Linked DNA regions of Homo sapiens. The protein of the gene in region 1 interacts with the protein of each later gene in a pairwise test. Each region holds a gene or a part of one and is shown in the gene's direction. Other genes may lie near its edges.

Region 1 (7,026 bases):
TGCGGGTACAATCCAAACATGTCCATCTGAGAGAAAAATCAAAATCAGGTATAAATTTGCCCCCTAAAAATTAAATGATAGAAGACTAGAAAGTGAGGAGTGATTAGGAAATTAAATCAGGATGCTCATAATTTTCATAATGGTGAGACTTTTAAAACTTAATCATTGATTCTTTTTTTTTCTAGGTAATTTTTCTTTTTTTTTTTTTTAATATTTTTTTTATTATACTTTAAGTTTTAGGGTACATGGCACATTGTGCAGGTTAGTTACATATGTATACATGTGCCATGCTGGTGCGCTGCACCCACTAACTCGTCATCTAGCATTAGGTATATCTCCCAATGCTATCCCTCCCCCCTCCCCCCACCCCACCACAGTCCCCAGAGTGTGATGTTCCCCTTCCTGTGTCCATGTGATCTCATTGTTCAATTCCCACCTATGAGTGAGACTATGCGGTGTTTGGTTTTTTGTTCTTGCGATAGTTTACTGAGAATGATGATTTCCAATTTCATCCATGTCCCTACAAAGGACATGAACTCATCCTTTTTTATGGCTGCATAGTATCCCATGGTGTATATGTGCCACATTTTCTTAATCCAGTCTATCATTGTTGGACATTTGGGTTGGTTCCAAGTCTTTGCTATTGTGAATAGTGCCACAATAAACATACGTGTGCATGTGTCTTTATAGCAGCATGATTTATAGTCCTTTGGGTATATACCCAGTAATGGGATGGCTGGGTCAAATGGTATTTCTAGTTCTAGATCCCTGAGGAATCGCCACACTGTCTTCCACAATGGTTGAACTAGTTTACAGTCCCACCAACAGTGTAAAAGTGTTCCTATTTCTCCACATCCTCTCCAGCACCTGTTTCCTAACTTTTTAATGATTGCCATTCTAACTGGTGTGAGATGGTATCTCATTGTGGTTTTGATTTGCATTTCTCTGATGGCCAGTGATGATGAGCATTTTTTCATGTGTTTTTTGGCTGCATAAATGTCTTCTTTTGAGAAGTGTCTGTTCATGTCCTTCGCCCACTTTTTGATGGGGTTGTTTGTTTTTTTCTTGTAAATTTGTTTGAGTTCATTGTAGATTCTGGATATTAGCCCTTTGTCAGATGAGTAGGTTGTGAAAATTTTATCCCATTTTGTAGGTTGCCTGTTCACTCTGATGGTAGTTTCTTTTGCTGTGCAGAAGCTCTTTAATTAGGTATTGTTGGGACGTATTTCAAAATAATAAGAGCTATCTATGACAAACCCACAGCCAATATCATACTGAATGGGCAAAAACTGGAAGCATTCCCTTTGAAAACTGGCACAAGACAGGGATGCCCTCTCTCACCACTCCTATTCAACATAGTGTTGGAAGTTCTGGCCAGGGCAATTAGGCAGAAGAAGGAAATAAAGGGTATTCAATTAGGAAAAGAGGAAGTCAAATTGTCCCTGTTTGCAGACGACATGATTGTATATCTAGAAAACCCCATTGTCTCAGCCCAAAACCTCCTTAAGCTGATAAGCAACTTCAGCAAAGTCTCAGGATACAAAATCAATGTACAAAAATCACAAGCATTCTTATACACCAATAACAGACAAACAGAGAGCCAAATCATGAGTGAACTCCCATTCACAATTGCTTCAAAGAGAATAAAATACCTAGGAATCCAACTTACAAGGGATGTGAAGGACCTCTTCAAGGAGAACTACAAACCACTGCTCAATGAAATAAAAGAGGATACAAACAAATGGAAGAACATTCCATGCTCATGGGTAGGAATAATCAATATCGTGAAAATGGCCATACTGCCCAAGGTAATTTACAGATTCAATGCCATCCCCATCAAGCTACCAATGACTTTCTTCACAGAATTGGAAAAAACTACTTTAAAGTTCGTATGGAACCAAAAAAGAGTCTGCATCGCCAAGTCAATCCTAAGCCAAAAGAACAAAGCTGGAGGCATCACACTACCTGACTTCAAACTATACTACAAGGCTACAGTAACCAAAACAGCATGGTACTGGTACCAAAACAGAGATATAGATCAATGGAACAGAACAGAGCCCTCAGAAATAACACCGCATAGATCTGATCTTTGACAAACCTGAGAAAAACAGGCAATGGGGAAAGGATTCCCTATTTAATAAATGGTGCTGGGAAAACTGGCTAGCCATATGTAGAAAGCTGAAACTGGATCCCTTCCTTACACCTTATACAAAAATCAATTCAAGATGGATTAAAGACTTAAACGGTAGACCTAAAACCATAAAAACCCTAGAAGAAAACCTAGGCATCACCATTCAGGACATAGGCATGGGCAAGGACTTCATGTCTAAAACACCAAAAGCAATGGCAACAAAAGACAAAATTGACAAATGGGATCTAATCATTGATTCTTAATATGTAATTGGTTACGGTATACTGGTTACTGCTTTAGGCATGATAGGCAAATGCTGAATTCCCAAACGAAGCTGTCTCACTGAGTTTTAAATTAGGCCATATATGTAAAGTTAAAATATAAGGGAATGGAGTAGGCTAAGATTTTTTAAACAGTTTACAAAAAGCATTGCCATTAAAGAAACAATGATAAATTGAACTTTATTTAAATTGAGAACTTACCTTCATCAAAAGACAGCATTAAGAGTCAGGCATGGTGGCATATGCCCATAGTCCGAGCTACTCAGCAGGCTGAGGCAGGAGGACTGTTTGAGCCCAGGAGTTCAAGGTCAGCCTGGAAAACATAGTGAGAACTTGTCTCAACCAATCAATAATATACACATACATAAGACAATACGAAGAGAATGAAACATCACTGCATCCATATTACAATAACTAAAGTTAAAAGCATTTGACAGTGCCATTCTGAGGGAGGATATAAAGCAATTGAAACTCATATTTTGCTGATGGGAGTACAAATTGGTACAACTAATTTGGAAGACTATTAGCAGCATCTAAATCTAAATCAGCATCTATTATCATTGTACTAAATCTGAAAATAATGCATACCCTTTGGAGAAATTCTACTTTACACATGAATACCTAGGTCCATCAAAAGACATGTACAGGAATATCCATAGCAACAACTGTGGACAGTTAAATAAGTTACGGCATATGTATATAACAGAATATTTTATAGCAATAAAAAGCAATGAATTATATGCAACAGCAAGGTGAACTTCACTTACCAATTGTTGAGGAAAATAAGCCAGACAAAAAGTTTAAAAATAGGCAATTTACATTTTGATAAAGGTTGGATTAGTACTTACCTTTTGGGGAGGGGAAAAAATGGGAGGGAACACTGGGGGGTCTTCTAGATTTCTGCATTTGTTCTGTATTTTGTTCTTCACATTTTTTCAAGCTGAATACTTTGTATATATGCACTTTGTGTAATTTAAAACGTAATTAACAATTAAAATATAACTAATGTTTTAAATATAAAGAACATAAACAAGTACCTTTTTTAAGGTTTAGCTTTTAGTTTGTTTCTTCTTTTCTTTCTTTCTTTCTTGCATCTTTCATGGAGATAAAGAGGGTGAGCTGAAGAAAATTGGAACTTGGAACAGACAAGAATGCAGAAAGTGAGAGGACACAGAAAAAATAGTAAAATGGGCAAGAGACAGCCTTTAAGCATATGGGTTGGTAGAAAAATCTGAGAAGAAATGAAGTAGGGATAGTTAGATTAATAACAATGTGCAAACCATGAAAAAAGGTATTTTTTGCACTCTACAAATGTGGCACTACACACTATTCTAATTTTCTGTGTAGTAACCAGTTGACCAGCGCTTAGTAACAGTCCGTATTCTTAGGGGTTTGAATCCTGAAGTGGTTTCATTTGGTATGCTGACTGTCCTTGTTTCATATCCATCCTAGTTCTATGGGACGCCTTCTCCAAAATAAGCATACTGTAAAGGCTTATAGATAACTTAAACTAAAAGAGGAAATTTATAATTACTTTGAACAGTTTTAAAGAAAGTATCAGGCTAGATATTAGGACAATGCCAAAGTTCACTAACTAGCTTTTTGCAGGTTTAATAATGATATTGCTTTCCTTCCCATTATCAATCTATATTATATAGTTAAGTTGTTTTACTTCAAATGTCTCCAATCGACATTTCCTTTGTATGCATATACTGAAATGATATTTAATAAAAAAGAACATCTCCTGTGTGGAGTTTAAATTTCTCTTATTAAATATTTATATTTTCAAAATGTCTTTATTTAATTGAGTGAGGTGCTTGGTGCCATTTCAAAATAACCTCAGGTGGTAGGTGTAATGACATATCAAAGATTTGACCTTTAGCATTTTAGGATTCTATTTGTCTGCATTTTCTTCTGCATTCATTTAGTCTTAATTTATATGCTATTTCTCTGTATGACTTAATGAGTAGATGTATTCGTTAAGAGATTCATTAGCCAAAAAAAAATATACACATGTATATATGAATACATTTTATTTCTGTGCAATCTGACTAGTGATTTTAAATTCATTTATATCTCAACTGTGACAAGTAGAAGATCAAGTAGAAAATGCTATGTAGAAGGCTGGTCAGTGTTTGCATAAACCTCATCCATTCTCATTAAGTGCTTGGCAGAATAGACCCTCGATCTCCTAAACCAATGCCCATTCTCTTCTCACTTCTTTCAGCTTATTACATTCTTTTATTTGCCTAGAGATACTTTATTTTCCAGTTCTCTGCTATTCCTTTTAAAGAAAATTGAATGTAATATTTACACTGATATAATTAAATTAACATCTTGCAGCATCTTTTTGTATGCTTTGGTAGCATAATCATTTGTCTGGGTAGCTTTCAGCCTAGAAGCAGAGAAATTATCAATTATAATGTTGTGACATAAAAATTATTTTCATTTGCTCATTTAAGTATTTATTGATTTTTAGAACTAGAGATTCTAAATGGAGGTTTTTGTTAAATAGATCATAGATCACTCAGTTTACATTACTTATCTTTAAATTTTTTTTAATATTTTCTCAGTTTACACAAATCTTTATCTCAAGAAGAAAATCTGAAGGATCAGTTTAACTATACCCTTAGTACATATGAAGAAGCTTTAAAAAACAGAGAGAACATTGTTTCCATCACTCAACAACAAAATGAGGAACTGGCTACTCAACTGCAACAAGCTCTGACAGAGCGAGCAAATATGGAATTACAACTTCAACATGCCAGAGAGGCCTCCCAAGTGGCCAATGAAAAAGTTCAAAAGTAAGTTAAATGATCTTGTAATAATACTTCAAACACATGAAACAAAACAAAACACTTTCTTTTGGGAACTAAACAATATGTAGTTATTGATCATGTTAATAGTTTAGAACAAAAGTAGAATTAACCCAGTGAACTTTTTTAGATTGGATACCATATGCCATATTTGGGGTCAAAAAAGTCATTTTCTTGGGAACCATTGTTACCCTGTAGGGCAAACCATTTTTATTTAATAACTGATCATCAGTTCATGGAGGCCATACTATTTAAATCATTTCACAGTCACAAGTTAATAGGCAAAGTTATTAGCAAGGGGAAGAGGCAGTCAAGTTACCACCTGAACTAATTTAGCTTTACAATAATCCTGCTTGAGTTGAGATCATCTGTGACATTGCAACCTGAGACTTGTAGGTGCATAAAAACCAGTAGGGTGAAATTAATTTTCTTGTGTTGTTCTTCTGAAGTATTCAATACTGCTTTTCACAGTGCATAATTATATATGTTTATTTTGAATGATCTTTGCATTTTTATTAGAATTTAAATAAAGCTGCATAATCTGTCAGTCCTTTTGACAGCTAGCAAAATGTTAACAAACAGCTTACCAGGCAAAGAAGTCACTTGTTAATTTAATGGACTTGAACATTGTAGCAGAATTTTCTGAGACACCTTTAATGTAATAGAACCACTGTAATAGAATACATAGAACACATGTAATAGAATATATTTTAACCTTCTTTATGTATTGTTAACAGCACTACAGCATTCACATATCTAGTCACCTTCAATTTCAAAGATATACCTTTTTCCTTAACAATTTTTATGTCAGTTTTACACTGTGAAGCAGTGCTCACATCAAGGTTTCTTACTTCCCACTACTTCTTATTTGAAAATGTCATCTTGACCATTTCCTCAATATCCCTGAAGTTATATTTTGATTAATAGCCAAAGTTATGTAAGTCAGTAGTTTTAAATTAGACCATTTTAAAACAGTTTAGAAATTGTGCATTTTAATCTTTACTAGCCATGTACCTTGAAACTTTTGATTTATGTAGGTATTATATATATTTGTAAGTTTAAAGATGGGGTTTATATTCAGTCAGAAACTATATGCAGTTATTCACAATGTACGTTAATATTCTAAGAACACTATGATGTATAGGTAGATCTCATTTCATTATAAATCACAATCAGTAACTTTTGACAGGATCTGATTTGGCTCTGTTTGCTTAAAGTCTACAAATACATACAAATTTCAAATTTTTCTTTATATATAATCCATTAATTTCTATACATGACCAAAATTCCCTAAAACAGTGGTTCCCACAGACCAATTCTATTTTCAAAAAATCTTCGGATGTGTTATCAACCTTTTATTTTTTAGATCTCATCAACTATCATCATCATTTCATTTAAAAAAACAATTTTTATACACCAAGAAGTAGAAATAATATCATCTCAGATAATGTTTTAAATTAAATAACTTTACTGAATGGCCAAGATAACCAAATAGGAACAGCTCTAGTCTGCAGCTCCCAGTGTTGATCGACACAGAAGATGGGTGATTTCTGTATTTCCACCTGAGATACCTGGTTCATCTCGTTGGGACTGGTTGGACAGTGCATGCAGCCCACCGAGGGTGAGCCAAAGCAGGGCAGGGTGTCACCTCACCTGGGAAGCACAAGGTGTCGGGGGATTTCTTTTTCCTAGCCAAGGGAAGCCGTGACAGACTGTACCTGGAAAATCGGTACACTCCCACCCAAATACTGTGCTTTTCCCACAGTCTTACCAACCTGCAGACCAGGAGATTCTCTCT
Region 2 (7,026 bases), on another chromosome or scaffold:
CTTCCCTTTTCCGGAGAGCAGTCCGGGAGCATCTGGTGGTGAGTCTGCCCCACTGCCTGATGCTCCCTCCACCTGGTGCTCCCTGCCTCTCTCTGTGGTCAAGGTAGGGGACGAGATCGTCCGGATCAATGGATATTCCATCTCCTCCTGTACCCATGAGGAGGTCATCAACCTCATTCGAACCAAGAAAACTGTGTCCATCAAAGTGAGACGTGAGTGAGGCCAGAGCAGGGCAGTACTCCATGACGGTGGGAGGGAGGGAGGGCGGGGGAGCAGGGCAGTACTCCATGACGGTGGGAGGGAGGGAGGGCGGGGGAGCAGGTCAGTACTCCATGACGGTGGGAGGGAGGGAGGGCGGGGGAGCTGTCCTAACCCCTGTGCCTTTCTCCCGCAGACATCGGCCTGATCCCCGTGAAAAGGTGAGAGGCCCCTCCTCTGCAGGCCAACTCTTCCCTGTGGGCCCAGGATCCTGGTACAGCCCTGGGGTCCGGCTCCCACCATGCCAGCCCTGCTTCTGGGCCAGTGGAGGCTGGAGGCTCTAGACATGGTGGATCTGGATGTGGGGCCTGGTTCCTCAAACGTCTCTCGCTAACCACCCTCCCATCTATTTTCCCTTCCCATCAGCTCTCCTGATGAGCCCCTCACTTGGCAGTATGTGGATCAGTTTGTGTCGGAATCTGGGGTAAGGGCCAGACCTCCTGTGATGGGGTTTGGGTGGGGTCATCTTCAAGGAGGGGTGGCCGGTCCTGAAGGGAGGGCTTGCTCTAGAGATGCACCCTCAGGGGCTTCACACAGGCTCCCAGGGCAGCCAGCACACCGCTGTGGGGCAGCAGCCCTCGGCCAGGCCCAGCTGGTGCAGACACATCCCCAGGGACGGAATGATGATCTGGCTGGCGTGAGTTCAGCAGTGCTCGCCCTGCAGATCCCACAAGCTCAAGAGGCCGCTTGCACGCATGTGGACACTCCGTGATTCTGCTTCTATCTCTCTTTCAGGGCGTGCGAGGCAGCCTGGGCTCCCCTGGAAATCGGGAAAACAAGGAGAAGAAGGTCTTCATCAGCCTGGTAGGCTCCCGAGGCCTTGGCTGCAGGTGGGTGGCAGGCATGCCCTGGGGTCATTCGTGGCCAGTGCACCCCAGCAGGCCCCTATTGCCCTCCCCTTCCTCACTGCCACTTCCGAGGAAACCTTGCCCACCAGGGGTGTGACTGTCCATGGGTGATGATACTTTTTTTGTTAGATACAGGGTCTGACTCTGTTGCCCAGGCTGGAGTGCAGTGGCATGATCATAGCTCACTGTAGCCTCAACCTCCCCAGCTCAAGCAATCCTCCCACCTCAGCCTCCTGAGTAGCTGGATCTACAGGAACACACTGCCATACCCAGCTAACTTTTAATTTTTTTGTAGAGATGGAGTTTTGTTATGTTGCCCAGGCTGGTCTCAAACTCCTGGGCTCAAGTGATCCTCCCACCTCAGCCTCCCAAAGCCCTGGGATTAGAGGCATGAAGCACCGCACCCAGCCTTGGTGTTGACACTTCTTGGTGCCTGATTTCCCCTCTGAACTTCATGACAGGCCTTTAGGGCCAGAGGGTCATCTCTAACAGAGCCCAATTTACAGATGAGGAAATTGAGGCCCAGAGGCAGAACAGTGTTACCTTGTGGGCCCTTGAGTCACTGCAAAAGGAGCCTGTTTGGCTGGTCATCTCTGTCACAGCTCTCTTGTCACTTATTAACTTGTTGGCTTCCTTAAGAGGCAGACAGGGAATTCCGAACAGACACTGGGCCACACGGGGCTTAAGCATGCAGGTGCCACCGTTACTCAGATCCCAGTTCCAGCCCTGCTTTCCCACTTAAGAGCTCTGGAACCTTGGGCCAGTTACTTAACCACTTTGAGCCTCAGTTTCTCCCTCTATAAATGGGCGATAATAATTCCCACATCACAGGGTGGTTGTGGAGAAAGTAAAGTGCCAAACTTAGTACCTGCTAAATAGTAAGCAGTTGGTAAATATTAGCTATTATTATTTAAGTTATCCCTGTTCTTTCCTTTCATTCACATTTATTCAATGTTTTGTGCCAAGCACAAGTGATAAAAAGTCCCACCTTTCTGGGAGACAACAGCCTAATCTAGAAGCCAACCAAGTAAATAGTTATAATATAGGGTGATAGGGACTCGAACGGGACTACATTCTGCGTCCAGGATGGCAAATAGGTGCCATCTCTAGTCAATGAGTAGCAGCTCCCTGGAGTGCTGCTTTGAAAAGCATTCTAAAGCTGTATCCAGGATTGTGGGAAAGAGTGCTGTGATCAATGAGTGACTTCTGCCACCAATCTAGGAAGGAATACTAACAGTACATGTACCATCCTTGCCGTAAATGTCATAGGAGCACTGAGAACAGAGCGGCTAGTTTAGTCTTGGGATAGAATAAGGGATCTGAGCCAGGCATGGTGGTGCACACCTGTAGTCGCAGCTAGGCTGAGGTGGGAAGATTGCTTGATCCCAGGAGTTGGAGGTTGCAGAGAGCTATGATCACACCACTGCACTCCAACCTGGGTGACAGAGCAAGACCCTGTCTCTAAAAAATAAATTTAAAAAAATAAGAGGATCTGGTAAAAACCTTATAGAAGGGATAGCATTTGAGTCTTAATGGATGGACAGGAAAGTGCTAGAAAGAAAGAAGAAACAGCATATGAGGTATATTAGGTGAGAGGTTGGGTAGGAAGAATTACAAGGATTTTTCTGTGGCTGTTGCCCAGGGTAGCAGTAGAAATCAGGCTGGAGAGGGACACAGAGGCTGAAGAGGTAGGCAGTCAAGGGCCTTCAGTCCTCAGCTCATGAGTGACCTGTATCCTGAGCACTGGACATGGGTTACCTGAATCCCGAGCACACATTTCCCACCTCCCGCAGCATTTCCAGCGGCCCCATCCAGAAGCCTGGCATCTTTATCAGCCATGTGAAACCTGGCTCCCTGTCTGCTGAGGTGGGATTGGAGGTGAGTGACGCTGGGCCGGCCCCAGTGGGGGCCCACTGGAAATTGGGTCAGACTGTGATCCCGCGGTGACAGGGGCAGGTGCCTTTCCACATGGCCCTCTTTCAGTGGACACTGAGGGAGTAGGAGCCCTACCCACCCTGCAGAGAAGGCTTCACAGACTGGGGATGTTTGACCCTTCTGCAGCCTTCCCCAGCTCTGATAGTTGTTGGTCACGAGCTTGGGAATGTCGTAATGGTAATCAAAGAGCGGACCTTCAGTGTCCACTTGCATCAGACATTGTTCCATGCCCTTTACACTTCACAAGAATGCTGAGGGTTAAGTACCACCATTATCCCCACTTTACATATGAGGAAACTGAGACCCAGAGAAAGTATATGATTTTTCCAAAATCGTGTACCTCATATGGTAGGGCTGGGATTCAAACCTAGGTGGTCCAATCCCAAAGCAGGAACCCTTAACCTCTTCTTTGGACAAGTTACTTCATGTCTGTTTGCTTACCTGTAAGATGGGGATAATACAGGCTTTCTTCCAAGGTTGTTGTGTGGGTTAAAGTAATTAATATGTATACTAGAGCTGTGCCAAGCACATTGTAAGTGATCAGTGAATGTTAGCTATTCTGTTATGACGATTCAACACAGCCTGTGCTAAATGAGAAGCTCAAAGGTTCCCGCATCTGCAAACTGTGATTTTTAAAGCAAATGTCATCAAATTTAGCCAAAGAAATGAACATGTAATGGTATAATATTTGATAGTTGATAAGATAGTTATGAAGTAGGGGAGTGCCAGGGTCAGCTTTAAGCCCTCCCAGAGCTCCACCAGAGCTTTCCAACTGCTCCATTCATCAGGAGGAGCTGAGGTACTGCCACTTGAAGATCCAGCATCTGACCCAGAGCCCCTGGGGGAGCCTGTCCTGCAGATGAGCGAGTGTACAGATAGCGCAAACACACTAATCTTTCTCCATTTCCCCACCAGATAGGGGACCAGATTGTCGAAGTCAATGGCGTCGACTTCTCTAACCTGGATCACAAGGAGGTGAGATGTGGGGGTCTTCACCTGTTGGCCCTTGTCATCTCCACACCCCACTTCTCATCCCCACCACCCTGGAGCCTGGGGCCTTCTGTGCTCTCTGCCTGGACTGCTGTGGTCTGTCAGGCCTCGGCCCACTGTCCTTCTGTCCCCACAGGCTGTAAATGTGCTGAAGAGTAGCCGCAGCCTGACCATCTCCATTGTAGCTGCAGCTGTAAGTCCAGAATGAGCTGGTGGGAGCCCCTTGACCTTCATCCCCAGCCCCTCTGACCTTTGATCTCTGCCACACACTCCCAGGGTGGCTGGTCTCCTTCCCTGAAGCTCTGACAGAGCAGAGCGAGAGGACTTCTGCCCAGCAAGAAGTTTGGGTCAGGGATTGCGGGAGCCGCAGTGCCTGATGGTGCTGAGAAGACCACCTGCATCTCGGCCCCCAGGGGTGTGTCAGGGGATCCCCAGGTTCCCCGGGGGCTGAGCAAGGGGCCTCTTTTCTCCCATGAGGGCCGGGAGCTGTTCATGACAGACCGGGAGCGGCTGGCAGAGGCGCGGCAGCGTGAGCTGCAGCGGCAGGAGCTTCTCATGCAGAAGCGGCTGGCGATGGAGTCCAACAAGATCCTCCAGGAGCAGCAGGAGATGGAGCGGCAGTGAGTGCAGCCAGCCCTGGATGCCCTGTCCCGCCTCCCACCCCACCACACGACCCCACCTAGCTTGCTTCCTGCCCGCTGTGTCCCCAGCCAACTTCCTCCTCCTCCCTGGAGGCCAGTCCTCAGACCAGATGAGTTTGGTGGTAGGTCAGCGTATCCATCCTTGGCCTCAGACCACCTGGCTCCTTCCTCCTTGCTGAGCAGAGCCCCCTGTCTTCCAACATTCCAAGAATATGGAAAATAAGCATCCTACTAGCAGTAGGCTCTAGCTAGCTAGGATTAGCTACCAGCTAACATTTGTCAAGTACCTCCATAAGGCTGGTGTTGTATTAGGGCCTTGTTTATGTTTCTTAATTCCCACAATAGCCCTGGGAGGTAGAGAGTATTAACCCCATTTTAGAGGTGTGGAGACTGACACTCAGAGAGGTGAAGCCACTTGTGTCTAACGTCACACGTGGCCAAGCTGGGATCACCCCCAGGCAATCTGGCAAGTCCCCACAGGGCTGCCCTGCCTATAGTGATGAAGCTCACCCTTGTCCAGGAGGATTGAAATGATGGCCTAAGAGAATAAATGGGGTGAGCAATTCATAAATCAAAAACTACTGTCAAGATCCAAATCCAAATACCTTTTAGGCATTTAAAAGTATTTCATGGCTGGACGCAGTGACTCACGCCTGTTATCCCAGCACTTTGGAGGTCGAGGCCGGCAGATCATCTGAGGTCAGGAGTTCGAGACCAGCCTGGCCAGCATGGTGAAACTGTGTCTCTACTAAAAATACAAAAAAAAATTAGCTGGGCATAGTGGCATGCGACTGTAATCCCAGCTTCTCGGGAGGCTGAGACATGAGAATCACTTGAACCTGGGAGGCAGAGGTTGCAGTGAGCTGATATCGCACCACTGAACTCCTGGGTGCAAAGTGAGACTTTGTCTCAATCAATCAATCAATTAATGTATTTTGAAAAGGAAAGAGGAAAGGCTGTCCCCATCTCCCCCAACACAGAGTTAGCTGGGAGTATTCCACCTGGCTAGGAGCCCCTGCTTTGCTCCTGGGGTCAGTCCAGGCCCCGCCTGTCATCAGTCACCTTACCTAAGTGTTTGGAGGAGGGTGCATGGAGTGTGGCCTTCACATGGATCTGCTTCCCTCCTCCCACAGCCCAGCATCTCTGCTCAGCCATGCCAGACAAAACCACGCAAGAGCACAGCGTCCAGACTTTGTTAGATAACGTCCCCCAAAACCAAAGCTGGTCCAGGCCTCCTAGGAAGGGAGCCTGGAGAAAAATCCAACTTTTCTCCAAATCAAGAATTCACAGTAAGGAAGAGTTCATTTCTCTTGCATAGGGCCAAACATGCCAATCTGCATTTGTGTTTCAGAAGGAGAAAAGAAATTGCCCAGAAGGCAGCAGAGGAAAATGAGAGATACCGGAAGGAGATGGAACAGTGAGTACCTCGGCTCCACGCGTGTCTGTGCATGAACATCAGTGTGCTCAGGGGAGTGTGGCCAACCAGAGGCTGCCTCCAGAACCAGTTTACCTGGTTCTCTCATCCCCTGGTGGGTCCTCCTTTATTTGTAGTAAAGCCTGTCATATTATAGTAACTGAAACATAGTCTCGTATAATTGCCAAGGTGGGGTTCACACTCAATTTAGAATACAAGCTCGGGGACTTTGCTTGATTCATCATGACTAGAACCATGAGGCTTCTCCCCAGGCTGGCTGGGGCTCTCCGATATGCAGGAGATGGGCCTATGGGGGTTCTGACTCCAGTAACAGGCATGGGGGTCTCATTTTAGGATTGTAGAGGAGGAAGAGAAGTTTAAGAAGCAATGGGAAGAAGACTGGGGCTCAAAGGAACAGCTACTCTTGCCTAAAACCATCACTGCTGAGGTACACCCAGTACCCCTTCGCAAGCCAAAGTGTAAGTTTCATGAGCCGAGGGGAGAGGCTAAGGGAACTAGTCAGAAATGCTGGCCCTCCCTCCCCTCACCACCACCTCCTAGATGGATAGCCCTTGGTGCTCTGGGCTGTGGTTCCTTCATGGAGGGGCAGCTGTGGGTCAGAGACCATCTGCCCCAGCATCGAGGTAGGAGGGATCTGTCTGCTCCCCTTGTTCACGGGCCAGCTCCACATACCCAGCTCCCAGGTCCCCCACAACACTGACATGGGCAGGCTGTCAGGCTGCTGAAGAGGGAATAAGGGCCATAGTGAAAGTGGATTAGCTCATGGGATTACCGTCCTAATGTTTTGGGTACCATGTCCTCCTCCTACTTGGTTCTGAACAGGGGCTGGGGTGAAGCCAGCAGCAGAAAAGAGGGGAAGGACCTCACATCAGAGAAGGGCTCTGGTGGTCCAAGGTTGATTCATAACTGTGGGAGGAGC

What was found. Proteins that work in one complex are often made in the same cells at the same time.
Region 2: the proteins of MIPOL1 (region 1) and USH1C interact in binary tests that used the Homo sapiens proteins (3 or more experiments, as listed by UniProt).

What each region holds. Positions count from the first base shown.
Region 1 is NC_000014.9:37,494,923-37,501,948, forward strand, and holds part of MIPOL1 (mirror-image polydactyly gene 1 protein), read left to right. Parts: intron 1-4,985; coding exon 4,986-5,216; intron 5,217-7,026.
Region 2 is NC_000011.10:17,520,409-17,527,434, reverse strand, and holds part of USH1C (harmonin), read left to right. Parts: intron 1-103; coding exon 104-212; intron 213-394; coding exon 395-419; intron 420-624; coding exon 625-682; intron 683-993; coding exon 994-1,088; intron 1,089-2,899; coding exon 2,900-2,984; intron 2,985-3,956; coding exon 3,957-4,016; intron 4,017-4,167; coding exon 4,168-4,224; intron 4,225-4,508; coding exon 4,509-4,651; intron 4,652-6,023; coding exon 6,024-6,089; intron 6,090-6,440; coding exon 6,441-6,565; intron 6,566-7,026. UniProt on the Homo sapiens protein: Anchoring/scaffolding protein that is a part of the functional network formed by USH1C, USH1G, CDH23 and MYO7A that mediates mechanotransduction in cochlear hair cells. Required for normal development and maintenance of cochlear hair cell bundles.